4 linked regions of the Homo sapiens genome follow. The protein of the gene in region 3 purifies or fractionates together with the protein of the main gene of each other region. This does not show direct contact. Each region holds a gene or a part of one and is shown on either strand. Other genes may lie near its edges.

Region 1 (3,500 bases), on a different chromosome or scaffold from region 3:
TAGTTAATAAACAAGCTGTGTGACATTAAGCTATGTTTCTCTCTAGCTTTCTGGAGATAGTACTGAATTCCCAAAACACAGCGTGATTTATTTTTTGTGATAGTGTGCATCAGCAAAAGGGCATATATTAGATGCTTGGAAAATGCTTTGCTATAGATTTATGTCTTTTTACTATTTGTCTTCATATATAATTATTGGGGGCAACTTTAGTTTTTTCTATTTCTCTTTTCAGAAAGAATAACAATTTTTTCGCCTTCTTATCTATATGTTTCATTGTGGACTATCAGTACTGTTCTTCATTTAAAATGCAAATGTTCTAATAATCTACAATCATAACCTTATGGTAGAACTGATACAGACATTGTAATCTCTAAGCCTCTGAAAATAGTGTTCTGCATTTTTATTGTAATCTCTAAGCCTCTGAAAATAGTGTTCTGCATTTTTATTCTAGAAGAGAGCTACTGCTCCTCATCAATGAGAGAGTGGGATTAAAAGGAACATGAGTAAGGATTATATTTGCAGAGCCTATCTATTTATTCAACAGTATTGTTGAATAATAACATTTCTTAAGTATCATCTTCCCTCAATATATGTGGGGGATTGGTTCCAGAATCGCCCTCCCCCCGCCACTGCATATTCCAAAATTCATGCATACTGAAGTCCCACAGTTGCTTCTAGGACATCAGCCATTCCGGTACTTGGGTTTTGTGGCGGGCAAATACTATATTTTTTATCTGTGGTTGGTTCAAAAAAAATTCACACATAAGTGGACCCCCCACAGTTCAAACTCATGTTCAAGGTTTAGCTGTATCTATTTTGTAGCAGAATCTAGGGAAACTTAGAAAGAGAATGACCTTTTCTATGAAACTTAATTTTGTTTCAGACAATAACATTCTGATAAGAGCTGAGTTTTACTCTTTTGTTAGCACTGTCAGTTTTCTCAACCATAGAATGAGAATGATAAAATAACCATCTCGGCTGGGCACGGTAGCTCACTCCTCTAATCCCAGCACTTTGGGAGGCCGAGGTGGGCGGATCACCTGAGGTTGAGAGTTCGAGACCAGCCTGACCAACAGGAAGAAACCCTGTCGCTACTAAAAATACAAAATTAGCCGGGTGTGGTGGTGCACGCCTGTAATCCCAGGTACTCGGGAGGCTGAGGCAGGAGAATCACTTGAACCCAGGAGGTGGAGGTTGCGGTGAGCCGAGATCGCGCCATTGCACTCCGGCCTGGGCAACAAGAGCGAAACTCCATCTCAGAAACAAACAAAACAAAAAACAAAATAACCATCTCATAAAGTTCTTGTGAAGAGTAAATAAGATAGTACATTTAAAGTACTTAACCCAGCACCTGGCATACAACAAACACTTCGTTATTTTAGATTTACTGTGAGACTTCGTCCAAAGTTACCTCTTAGGTATTTATTTTCCTCTGTTCCTCCCTTCTTATTTTTCTCCAAATTGTCATCAAAGATAAATTTCTAAAACAAAAATCTGATTGTATAACTACCTCTTTGATACCATCTTTTCAGCTTTGAAAACCTTTAGTGGTTTCCTGTTGTCTGAAGAGGAATGCCTCAAATACATGGATGGTATTCAGCATCTTCCCACGTGGCCCTAGCCTTCCTTCCCAAACCATCTTCTGCCTTGACCACCCACTGGGTTGCAGCCCAAGTAGGCCACACAGTTTTATTTTGCTACCTTGGCTTGTTGTCTTCCTTCTGTCTAGAATTCCTGCTGTGGGCCTCACCTCCTCATCACCCCACAACCTGAAGAAACAACTGTCTATGGGAAACTCAAAGATTTCTCTTCTTTCTAGGCAGAATTTTTGGTTCCTGTTCATTCATCTCTTTTTAGCATTTATTATGATATCAAAGGTAATTCTATATGTCTTGCTCTCTTACTAGCTCATGAGTTCCTTCAGAGCAGAGGCCATAGTTTATTCATCATTGTGATAACATTGATGAGTGCCACTAGAACTCAGTAGGCACTCTGTAAAAATTTGTTGAAGTAATGTATTAATATTTGGTTTAATTTTATTTTGATTTCAGTGTGTTTTTATTCTAGGTCCTTGGCCTTGTCCAAAACATGAGTGTTTTCCAGTGTCCAAAATGTAAACACAAAACTCATATTTTTGGTGCTGATGGTGCAAGGAAACTAGCACAGACCCTTGGTCTTGAAGTTCTAGGTAAGACTGTGGGATGTTCTTTTGTAGAAGAAGTGGCAGAAGAGAAAGTGGGGATGAGGCTTGATGATTAAGAGTGTCTCAGAGGCCGGGCACGGAGTCTCACACCTGTAATCCCAGCACTTTGGGAGGTCGAGGTGGACAGATCACGAGGTCAGGAGATCGAGACCATCCTGGCTAACATGGTGAGACCCTGTCTCTACTAAAAATACAAAAAATTATCCAGGCGTGGTGGCGGGCGCCTGCAGTCCCAGCTACTCAGGAGGCTGAGGCAGGAGAATGGCATGAACCCTGGAGGCGGAGCTTGCAGTGAGCTGAGATAGCACCACTGCACTCCAGCCTGGGTGACAGAGTGAGACTCCATCAAAAAAAAAACAAAAAACAAAAAACAGTGTCTCTGAAAATGATGAGTTGCTTTTGGCTTTGTGTTTTAAATTAATATAGCACAGTTCTATGTGTTAACCTTTCTTTGGCTTTTTTGAATAGGTTTGTTCTGTCAACTATGATAATTTCTATTTTAAATAAAAACTGTCTATAACTTAAATTTGAGAATAGAGTTTTGTAGTCCAAGTACTGTAATTTGAAGCCATATTTTAAATGATACTCATCAGTGTGTTTGCTAAGTTGGGTGTACATCTCTCAGTAGAAACAGGTACATTAAAATGTCTGTTCCGTATGTTGTAAAAACCTCTAAAAGTGTTCGTTCTTAGTGCATATGTAAAAATGCCTTCCTGATTAATTCTTTGTTAGTCTTTCTGCTTTAGAATGGCAGTATTTACTGTTTTCTGTAATATTTAATGTGTTTGATATGTCTTTAAAATATGGCACCTGAAATTTACATTGTACGCACTGTTCATGGCACTGAACTGAAGAGTTCATTAGTGCTGTGAGGAAAACTAAAATCATGTGTTAAATAAGCAAAACACAGGTTTTGGATAAAACATGATGTTCCAAAAATCCACAGGCAACTTAACAGACTTTTTAGAAAACATGTTTTGATATTCTAATTGTGAATGGGTTTCTGTTCTTGCCAAAGGCAGGTGTTAGATGCTGAATAGGGAAGGCATAAAGTGAATTATTAGACTTAGGTAGTTAAAAATTAAGATCCCTAGAGATTAAGGAATTTCAAAACATTCTCTGTTATAATTAAGTTTCTAAAAGTTGATGTTAAATATATTATTGTTATGCATTTGCACTATAGCAGCCACTACAATACCAGGTGAATACTAATGATATATTTTGATACATTGCTATAATTATAGCCACTAATTATATTCTGCAACTGTTTTTCATTTAACCCAGAAAGTTCAATTTT
Region 2 (2,321 bases), on a different chromosome or scaffold from region 3:
CCTGGGTTTGGCTCCACTCTGTCCTCTTGTAAGAAGCCTCCCAGACACATGGGGACATCGTGCTGGCTCCTCCCCCTCTCCCCAAAGCACTGTGGCCCAGCGGACTCCAAGCTTCCCTGATCCGCCTGCCCACTCCCATCCACTGGCAGGAGGCACCTCCTCCGCTGCCTTCTCCCTGATGGTGGCACAGAGTTGTAATCTTCTATTTGCCATCTGTCTCCCCCATCAGGCTGAGCCATCTTAGGCAGGCACCCTGTTGGTCTGGTTGCCAGCTGTGTCCTCAGTGGGCACAGGGATGTGAAGAGAACACATAGGAAACAGGTACTCCAGCTCAGTCCCCTGCCACCTGTCCCCAGCCTGCAGCCCTTTAACCCACCAAACGCACCCCTCCCTACCACAGAACTACCTACACTGCAGCCCCCCTGCCAGGGGTGGCTCAAGCCCTGCTCCAGAGCCTGGAAGCCAGGCTAGCAATCCCCTCCACAAAAAAAGACGCTCTGTTTTCCATTTTGCACAAAAATGTATTTCTGTGACTTCCCAAAGTACAGACATTTCCCCAGGCCCCAGGGGGTAAAGCAATGAGGTGTGAAGTCTGCCAGGGTCTGGCCGGGGCCGCTGAGCGTGGGAAGGAAGGGAGCGCCGCATGCAGCCCATCTGCCAAGCTGGGGGAACACAGGGCTGCGCCCACTTCCCAGGGCCGGGAGGGAGAGGCTCCAGGAGAAAAAGGCCAGGTGTCTCTCCCAAAGCTGCTCACCCCTGCCGTCCTGCCTGGAGGCAGAAATGCTAGGAACACCTGAAAACAGGCCCGCGGGAGGAAAAGGGAAGAAAAAGCCATCACCCAAAGGCTGCCTCCAGGGTTAGCGCTGCTCCCCAGGCCCCTGCGCTCCACAAGTGTCCGATGAGAAGCAATGCAGTGTCCATCGATGGAGGAGCAAGAGAGCCGGCGCCTCTCAGGCTTCCAAGGTAAAGCCTAGGGCAGGGCGGGACCGCCAGGGAGGCCCAAGCGGCCACTGCAGGGCAGTCCGAGTGCTGGTCTGGAGGCGGCTGTGTGGCCGTTGTGGGTCAAAGGCTGTCATGGGACCTCTGCCTCTGAGAGGCGTGGGGTCCTCTGGGCAGCGGGGCAGGCTGGGAGGAGGAGGCAGGCTCAGTTCTGCTGGTGGGAGCGCCTGGGCAGTTGAGGGCTATGGAGCGAGGAAGCAAGCCCCTGGCCCCAGAAGATGCTAGCTTCCAGGGCTGAGGGCAGGTTCTGGATGTGTTTGGCAGAAGGGGCAGTGGAATCTGCCCCTGAGTTCTGACCATCCCTGGGCTGGGGCTTTCCACAGCCTGGGACCTGGTGGGAGACTAGGAGGCAGCCTCCATAGCAGCGTGGCCTCAGGCAGGCCTGGCTGGACAGCAGCAGGGCCACTGGGTGCCCTGCTCCTAGAGGGTCTTCAGGGGCAGGGCTGCCTGGACCTCAGCCTAGGAATGGCTCACTTTCCTGCCCCAGATGGCCCACAGCCGGGAGCACCAAGGCTTTTGGGAGACCCAGTGGGGTAAGTTCTAATCCCCAAACCCCATCAGCTGTGCCCGGGAGCCGAGATGGCGTTCTCAGGCAGGGGCAGTGGGTCAGGATGCTCGATACGCTGTCCAAGGCCTGCTCCTCTCATGAAAGGAAGCCAGGCCGGGATCTGAGTTTCCTGGACAAGGACTGGACACTCACAGCGTTATAGGCATTTAGTCTGGTTGGGGTAGGAGTGTGTGTGTCAGCGATGAAGGCTGAGTGGGTTTGAGAATGGCCAAGGAAGCTGCAAGGACTCAGGAGTGTTGCTTTTGTTTTTGCACAGAAATCATACACACAAAACTTCACACTTCCTAACCAAAAAAAAAATATATATATATAATATATATATATCTCACTAACATTAAGGAAAAGCGTCGGTTGTGCAAAAGTCCCCCATGTCTCTTCACTCCGTGGGAGGCTCCCTCGGAAGGGGCCCGCCCGCTGGGCTGCTTGAGCATGCTTCCTCCCCGCCTGTGGTCCAGAGCGGTGGCGGCCATGGGGACGGAGGCCTCTATCTAGACGTGTCCATGTTCTCCTCTTTAAAGTTACTGCAGTGCTCAATCACCTTGCTGGAGACAATGGGGGAGACAGGATTGGAGGGTGGGCTTGGGTGGGGGTGAGCCCAGCCCCTCCGAGATCATTAGGCAGCTGGGTAAACACGTGTTCATAGTGATGGTGATGCTGACCGAATGATGTGGACAGAGGGGCTGGCAGAGTGGCTGGCATGTGCAGGGGACTCAGGGAATGGCACCTGTGGCCGTGAATGCCATCACCAGCCATC
Region 3 (4,061 bases):
AAAAGAATTCAGGCAGTTACTCAACTGCTGCACTGATAAAAATGCAGTATTACCCTATATGAATTCTGTGAAGATTAAATGAGGTAAGATCTATAGGCCGGGTGCGGTGGCTCACGCCTGTAATCTCAGCACTTTGGGAGGCTGAGGCGGGCGGATCATGAGGTCAGGAGATCGAGACCATCCTAGTTAATACAGTGAAACCCTGTCTCTACTAAAAATACAAAAAAATTACCCTGGCGTGGTGGCGGGTGCCTGTAGCACCGGCTACTTGGGAGGCTGAGGCAGGAGGATGGTTGTGAACCCAGGAGGTGGAACTTGCAGTGAGCCGAGATCGCGCCACTGCACTCCAGCCTGGGCGACAGACCGAGACTCTGTCTAAAAAACAATAAATAAAAAAAAAGATCTATAATATGGTACCTAGTATTTAGCAGTGAATAAATACTGGTTCGTTCTTTCTACCCCTACACCTTTTTCTCATCTGCAGTAACAGATACAAAGCAAACATTTCACTGGCTATTTATTATGCTGTATTCTCTGAGAGTTTTTAGCTATAATTAGTCAAAGATCTATTAAAGATGAGATGCCTGGAGAGAAGTCAAAGTAGAGGGAGAAAAGGTTTGTATGCAAGAAAAGCTCTTAAAAGGGCCCACATTGGAGCTTCATAGCGTCTCCAAAGAGTCTTAGGACTCAAAGGATTAAGCAGCTAATGAAATAGCACACCTAATAAATAACAACACAGTGACTCATAATAAAATTATTGTTTTTATCATTTTGGAGAGAGAAAATAGGGGGAAAATCACATACATTAACAGTCCATGATGCCAAGCTCCTGAAGAGTAAAAGTTTCCCAGCTAAGAGGGATGTTTCCCTCAGTTTGTTTTATCAGTACTAATAAAAAGCATCTGCCCCTTTACCAGCAAGTCCTCTACTCAGAAAGAACTGACCCACGCAAGTCTGGGAGAGTGACTAGTTCAAATGTGCAGGGCTGAAGCTTCCAAACACAGCCACTATTTTCTGTTGTATATCTTCATCTCAATGGTGACATGGCCACTGCCCAAGGAACTTGTGGCAGGGATCCCAAGGTGAGGCAGCAACAGATGTCTGTGAACATTGTGCGTTAACAGTGGCTCAGAGCCTCTAGATTCACAGCTCTGCATGGTGGGCTTCTGCCTTCAACAACTCACTGGGCTTCATGAAGATGCCTTCCATGGCTTTCCAGTAGTTGTTCTGACTTGGCTGGGCCATGCCATGCACCTCTTTTTGCCCACTGATAGGTCGACCATATTGTTCTCCTGTGACAGACAGCAGTACCTCAGTGGAAGAGTGTTTGAACCGCACCTCACCATCTCTCACCCAGTAGGGTCCATTACAGAGCACTGTCCAGTCATCCAGATAATCACCTTCACCTTCCTCACCAAAAGCACTCACTTCCTAGAAAATACAGAAGGTAGTAACATCAGCATGGCTGACAAGGGCTTGAAAAGGGGTGGGAGGCAATGGGAAGAAAAAGAAGGCCACCTTGAAGTAAAAAATCAGAGGGGCCAGGCTTATGCCTGTAATCCTACCACTTTGGGAAGCTGAGCAGGGCAGATCACTTGAGCCCAAGAGTTTGAGACCAGCCTGGGCAACATGGTGAAACGCTATCCCTAAAAAAAATACAAAAGAAATTAGCTGAGGTCAGGAGTTCAAGACCAGCCTGACCGACATGGAGAAACCCTGTCTCTACTAAAAATACAAAATTAGCTGGGTGTGGTGGCACATGCCTGTAATCCCAGCTACTCGGGAGGCTGAGGCAGGAGAATCGCTTGAACCCGGGAGGCGGAGGTTGCGGTGAGCCGAGATCACACCATTGCACTCCAGCCTGGGCAACAAGAGCAAAACTCTGTCTCAAAAAAAAAAAAAGAAAAAAAAAAAAGAAATTAGCTGGGCATGGTGGCACATGCCTATGGTACCCAGCTACTACAGCTATCACCTAAGTCCAGGGGATCAAGGCTGCAATGAGCTGTGATCATACCACTGCACTCCAGCTTGGATTACAGAGCAAGACCCCATCTCAAAAAAAAAAAAAAAATTCAGCTGCTTTCCAGTGTTGTTATTTTATTTATTTATTTATTTATTTATTTTGAGACAGAGTATCGCTCTTGTTGCCCAGGCTGGAGTGCAATGGCGCAATCTCGGCTCACCACAACCTCCGCCTCCCAGGTTCAAGTGATTTTCCTGCCTCAGCCTCCCTAGTAGCTGGGATTACAGGCATGTGCCACCATGCCCGGCTAATTTTGTATTTTTAGTAGAGACAGGGTTTCTCCATGTTGGTCAGGCTGGTTTCGAATTCCCAACCTCAGGTGATCCTCCCGCCTCAGCCTCCCAAAGTGCTGGGATTACAGGCATGAGCCACCGTGCCCGGCCACTCCAGTGTTGTTTAAACCATGAACCATGGAAAAAGACGAAAGACATAAAGGACATAGGAGGAAAAAAATTCATTGCTATAAGATTATGGTCCATGGTTCTTATCTGAGTCATGGCATCAAAAAGAAAGGAAAAAAAAAAGATTATGGTCCAAACACTTATTTTGCAATTAATACTATAATTGCCTTATATTTTCTATTACAGTGTTAAAACAGAATTTCTTTTTTTTTTCTTTTTAAGAGTTGGGATTGTGGCCAGGTACGGTAGCTCATGCCTGTAATCCCAGTAATTTGGGAGGGCGAGGCGGGCAGATCGCCTGAGGTCAGGAGTTCAAGACCAGCCTGGCCAACATGGTAAAACCCCATCTCTACTAAAAATACAAAAATTAGCCAGGTGTGGTGGCAGGCGCCTGTAATCCCAGCTATTCGGGAGGCTGAAGCAGGAGAATCGCTTGAACCTGGGAGGCGGAGGTTGCCGTGAGCCGAAGGTTGCAGTGAGCCGAGATTGCACCACTGGACTCCAGCCTGGATGACAAGAGTGAGACTTTGTCTCAAAAAAAAAAAAAAAAAAAAAAAAAAAACAGTTAGGGTATCTTGCTCTGTTGCCCAGGCTGGAGTGCAGTGCCTCAAGTGGTCTTATGGCCTCACCTCCTGAGTAGCTAAGACAACAGGCATATACCACCACACCCAGGTAATTAAAAGTTTTTTGGTAGGCAACTGTGTTGCCTTGGCTGGCCTCTAACTCCTGGACTTAAACGATTCTCCCCACTTGGTCTTTTAGGGTGCTGGGATTACAGGTGTGAGCCACCGTGCTGGCTTTAAAATACTTTACTTTTTTGAGACAGCATCTCGCTCTGTCGCCCAGGCTGGAGTGCAATGGCACAATCTCGGCTCTCTGCAACCTCCACCTCTTGGGTTCTCATGCCTCAGCCTCCAGAATAGCTGGGATTACAGGCATGTGCTACCACACCCAGCTAATTTTGGTATTTTTTAATAGAGATGGGGGTTTCACCATGTTGACCAGGCTGGTCTCAAACTCCCAGCCTCAAGTGATCCACCTACCTCAGCGTAGTAAAGTGCTGGGAGTACAGGCATGAGCCACCACATTCTGCCCTTAAAATACTTTATATCTCTTGTTATTTGACTTTAAATATTACTGCTTCATTCTCTTAACTAGATTTTAAATGACCTGATGACAAGTTCAAAAGGGAATGGACTCTGGGAGTCAGGCTGACCTTGAATCTCAACTTGATCCCTTCTTCTGTAAATCCTTTGAGCCTTTGTTTTCTCCTCTATAAAATGATCACAATATCACCTTACAGAGCAACTGTGAGAATTAAATGAGATAGCAAATATTAACTGAGCAAAACATAGCAAGTTTTCTACATTCTTTTCTTTCTTTCTAATAAGGCAGTGAGAGAGAAAGCAAGTTCTCTATATTCTACTCCTCATCTAAATCCCATCTTCCTTAAGGCCAAATATTCAGTTTCTATACGATGGCAATTAAAAAATTACTGATTATTTCAGAAGTGTGTGTGTGTGTGTGTGTGTACACTCTACTTGATAAAATTGTTCCCAGGAGGGTACCAGTATGTAATTCTGATACTGCTATATTTGTATACTGGAACTGAACTGAAGTTCAATACATGGATGGCA
Region 4 (3,500 bases), about 14 Mb from region 3:
TAAGGCCTGGACCAAACTGCCCCTTTCTTGTAGCATTTGGTGCTAGCAAAACACTGGAGTTGAGTGAGAACTGGATTCCAGTCTCAGCTCTACCACTACACAGAGATGTGACCTCGGATGGGGCACTTCCGAGCCTCAGTTCCCTCCTTGTAAACACACACACACAGACGCACACACATTGTATCTCATTAGCTTTTCATAACACCCGCACATGAAATAGAAGCAGCTCATGTGTTCCCAGTTTTACAGACAGGAAGCCAGGCTAAATGGCTTACCCTGTCACACACTCGCCAATGGCTGTTGATCTATTCGCCCACTCTCCCTGATTGCCCTGGGCTTTGTTACACGCTGCTGCTCTGCCTAGGAGCTTGGACTCCATGGAGTTCTCCTGGCTTGAGGTTTCACTCTGTCCTGCCCCACCCTCAGGCAGCAGCCCTATCCAGCCAAGACCAGGTCACACCACCGTGAGCGCAGGCGGAGTCCTCAATGACCAGCACTGGCACTATGTGCGGGTGGACCGATTTGGCCGCGATGTAAATTTCACCCTGGACGGCTATGTGCAGCGCTTTATTCTCAATGGAGACTTCGAGAGGCTGAACCTGGACACTGAGGTGAGAGACTAGGGAGGTGCTATTTCGTGGTAGGGTAGATGCTGGATGAGTGAGTGCAGGTCGGTCTCTCCCTTTCTCTTTTCCTCTGTCTCTCAGAGGAAAGACCTGGCATTCAGGCTGTGGGTGGTGGCTCATGCCTGTAATCCCAGCACTTTGGGAGGCTGAGGTGGGAGGATTGCTTGAGGCCAGGTGTTCAAGACTCACCTGGGCAACATAGTGACATCCTACCTCTATTTAAAAAAATTTTTTTTTTCAAAGACCTCGCATTCCAATTCCTGAATATCCTAGCAGCCCTTGGCAAACTTGCCACTCACCAGAAAAAGGCCTGTTTTTTTTTTTTTTTTTTTTTTTTGTGGGTGTTGTTGCTGTTAGCATGCAGACTCCCAGGCACTATTTCAGAACTAATGAGATGGGGTTTGGAAATTCAGATTTTGGGGACTAGGCAAGGTAGGAAAATTGTTCCCTTGGATCCTCCCACAACTTTGTGGAGTTGTTAAAGACCCTGACCCCATCTGCAGATAAGAATCCCAGGCAGGCTAATTGACTTGCCCAAGGGCGTGCAGCCGATTTGTGTTGGAGTCAGAGCTTGAACTCAAGCCTTGAAAGGCCTAGCGAGCTTTAGTACCGACACTGGGGAAATGTGTGTTTTAAGTCTTTTACAAAACCCCATCTGGCATTTGGGAAAGCATACGGCGGGGACGCGCGAGAAAGGCAGGCGCCCTCCTGTGCCCAAGAGGCCTCATTCCCCACGCCTCCCGCAGATGTTCATCGGAGGTCTGGTGGGCGCCGCGCGGAAGAACCTGGCCTATCGGCATAACTTCCGCGGCTGCATAGAAAACGTAATCTTCAACCGCGTCAACATCGCAGACCTGGCCGTGCGGCGCCATTCCCGGATCACCTTCGAGGCCAGTGGGCAGGGGGGTCTGGGAGGACAGGATATCAAAGCGTCGTGGAAAGCAAAGAGGTGGAGCGGGAAGAGATATTGAACATCAGATAAAAGCGGAGAATCCCTCTGTCCCCAGCCAGATGCTCAAGTTGGGAGGGGAGCGGGTCTCACCTGAGGTGCATGAGCCACGCAGGCCCCTAGTTAAGAAGCAGTGGTCGGGTCCAATCACCTTCTTAGTTCATAGATGAAGAAAGTAAGGCGCAGACACAGGGAGTGGCTTGTCCAGGGGTCGTGCAGCTGCACGGTGGCTGAGTAGGGACTTGAACCGATGGCTTCTCTGATATGCCCCCCTCAACCCTCTCCGACTCTGGAGCTCTGTTGGGAAGCTGGCAGGAGCCAGGTCTGTGGTCCAAAATTGCCTCTCGATACTGGAAGGAGAGAAGCGGTCGAATCGCAGACGGTGGAGATCAGCGAGAGCAAGCGAGCAGAGTTCCGAGGGCCGACTGGGTTGGGGCCCCCTCCACAGATGGACGAGCTTGGAGGGGAAGAGGTCACGTCATGGTTGGAGATCTCACCCCCGCCAACACCGAAGGAGGGCGGTGACCAGGGTCTTAGACCGGTGTGAAAACTGAATTCCCAGCTGAGGCAGAGGCGGCTCACGGGTGTTGATGCGTCTTCACTTTTGCCCCTAGGGTAAGGTGGCTTTTCGTTGCCTGGACCCGGTACCGCACCCTATCAACTTCGGAGGCCCTCACAACTTCGTTCAAGTGCCCGGTTTCCCACGCCGTGGCCGCCTGGCAGTCTCATTTCGCTTCCGCACCTGGGACCTCACCGGGCTTCTCCTTTTCTCCCGTCTGGGGGACGGGCTGGGCCACGTGGAGCTGACGCTCAGCGAAGGGCAGGTCAACGTGTCCATCGCGCAGAGCGGCCGAAAGAAGCTTCAGTTCGCTGCTGGTGAGGGCGTTTCGGGGGAGGCACAAGAAGAGAAGAGAAGTGTAGAGGATCCCAGGAAAGTTGTAGGCCTGGACTGAGGCCTTTACATTCTGGAGAGGGGAGAGGAGTGAAGGGGGCAGGGCAGGAGGCCCCAGGGTACTGGGAAAAGGTGGGAGTGGCTAGAGGCAGTGAGGAGGCGAATCTGAGGGACTAAGTATTCTTGGAGAAGGGGGAAGCCTGGGAGTCCTGGTATTCTCCAGTTCCAGAAGGCCCCTGGAGATTTGGTTACTCGTTTATAACTGTGCAGACTCTGTGGCAGTTGCTGGGTCATGGATAATGAAGAGACATTCAGAGAGGTCTCCACTGGGTGTGAGAAGTGTAATCACGGGGGCACACAGGCTGCTACTGGGACACAGTGGGGCTGCTGCTTCCCCACTCAGAACATTCTTCTACCCTAGTTGCTGCTTCCCTCCACCCACACCATCATCCATTCTTGTCCAGGGTACCGACTGAATGACGGCTTTTGGCACGAGGTGAATTTTGTGGCACAGGAAAACCATGCAGTTATCAGCATTGATGATGTGGAAGGGGCAGAGGTCAGGGTCTCATACCCGTTGCTGATCCGGACAGGGACCTCATATTTCTTTGGGGGTAAGTGGGGGCCAACCTGACCAGACCTCTGTTTCTGGGTGGGAAGGCTCCATCTAAGTCCACCCAGATGGGGCCACATGGAGAATTTTGGAGGGATCAAGCCCTCTTCCCCTCTGGGGCCTCAGGGAGTGGAAGGTCATTGCCATCTACACTTTGGTTGTAGTCCCCTTTCTTCCTTTATGTCTGGCTCCCCCTCAGCATGTCCCTGGGGGAGGGTCTTTGGGGTCTCCCCTGGGGAGGATCTCACAGGGGTGGTTGCTCCAGGTTGTCCCAAGCCAGCCAGTCGATGGGACTGCCACTCCAACCAGACGGCATTCCATGGCTGCATGGAGCTGCTCAAGGTGGATGGTCAACTGGTCAACCTGACTCTGGTGGAGGGCCGGCGGCTTGGATTCTATGCTGAGGTCCTCTTTGATACA

The links. Proteins that work in one complex are often made in the same cells at the same time.
Region 1: the proteins of SDF2 (region 3) and NUBPL purify together in Homo sapiens (affinity purification with mass spectrometry; one large-scale study listed by BioGRID and IntAct). This does not show direct contact.
Region 2: the proteins of SDF2 (region 3) and ZER1 purify together in Homo sapiens (affinity purification with mass spectrometry; one large-scale study listed by BioGRID and IntAct). This does not show direct contact.
Region 4: the proteins of SDF2 (region 3) and CNTNAP1 purify together in Homo sapiens (affinity purification with mass spectrometry; one large-scale study listed by BioGRID and IntAct). This does not show direct contact.

What each region holds. Positions count from the first base shown.
Region 1 is NC_000014.9:31,844,404-31,847,903, forward strand, and holds part of NUBPL (iron-sulfur cluster transfer protein NUBPL isoform 1 precursor), read left to right. Parts: intron 1-2,067; coding exon 2,068-2,188; intron 2,189-3,500.
Region 2 is NC_000009.12:128,729,286-128,731,606, forward strand, and holds the end of ZER1 (protein zer-1 homolog), read right to left. Parts: intron 2,110-2,321; coding exon 2,052-2,109; 3' UTR 501-2,051; downstream 1-500. UniProt on the Homo sapiens protein: Serves as substrate adapter subunit in the E3 ubiquitin ligase complex ZYG11B-CUL2-Elongin BC. Acts to target substrates bearing N-terminal degrons for proteasomal degradation with the first four residues of substrates being the key recognition elements.
Region 3 is NC_000017.11:28,647,846-28,651,906, forward strand, and holds the end of SDF2 (stromal cell-derived factor 2 precursor), read right to left. Parts: intron 3,698-4,061; coding exon of another isoform or gene 3,641-3,697; intron 1,432-3,640; coding exon 1,144-1,431; 3' UTR 501-1,143; downstream 1-500.
Region 4 is NC_000017.11:42,685,531-42,689,030, forward strand, and holds part of CNTNAP1 (contactin-associated protein 1 precursor), read left to right. Parts: intron 1-426; coding exon 427-611; intron 612-1,372; coding exon 1,373-1,516; intron 1,517-2,189; coding exon 2,190-2,451; intron 2,452-2,931; coding exon 2,932-3,081; intron 3,082-3,345; coding exon 3,346-3,500. UniProt on the Homo sapiens protein: Required, with CNTNAP2, for radial and longitudinal organization of myelinated axons. Plays a role in the formation of functional distinct domains critical for saltatory conduction of nerve impulses in myelinated nerve fibers.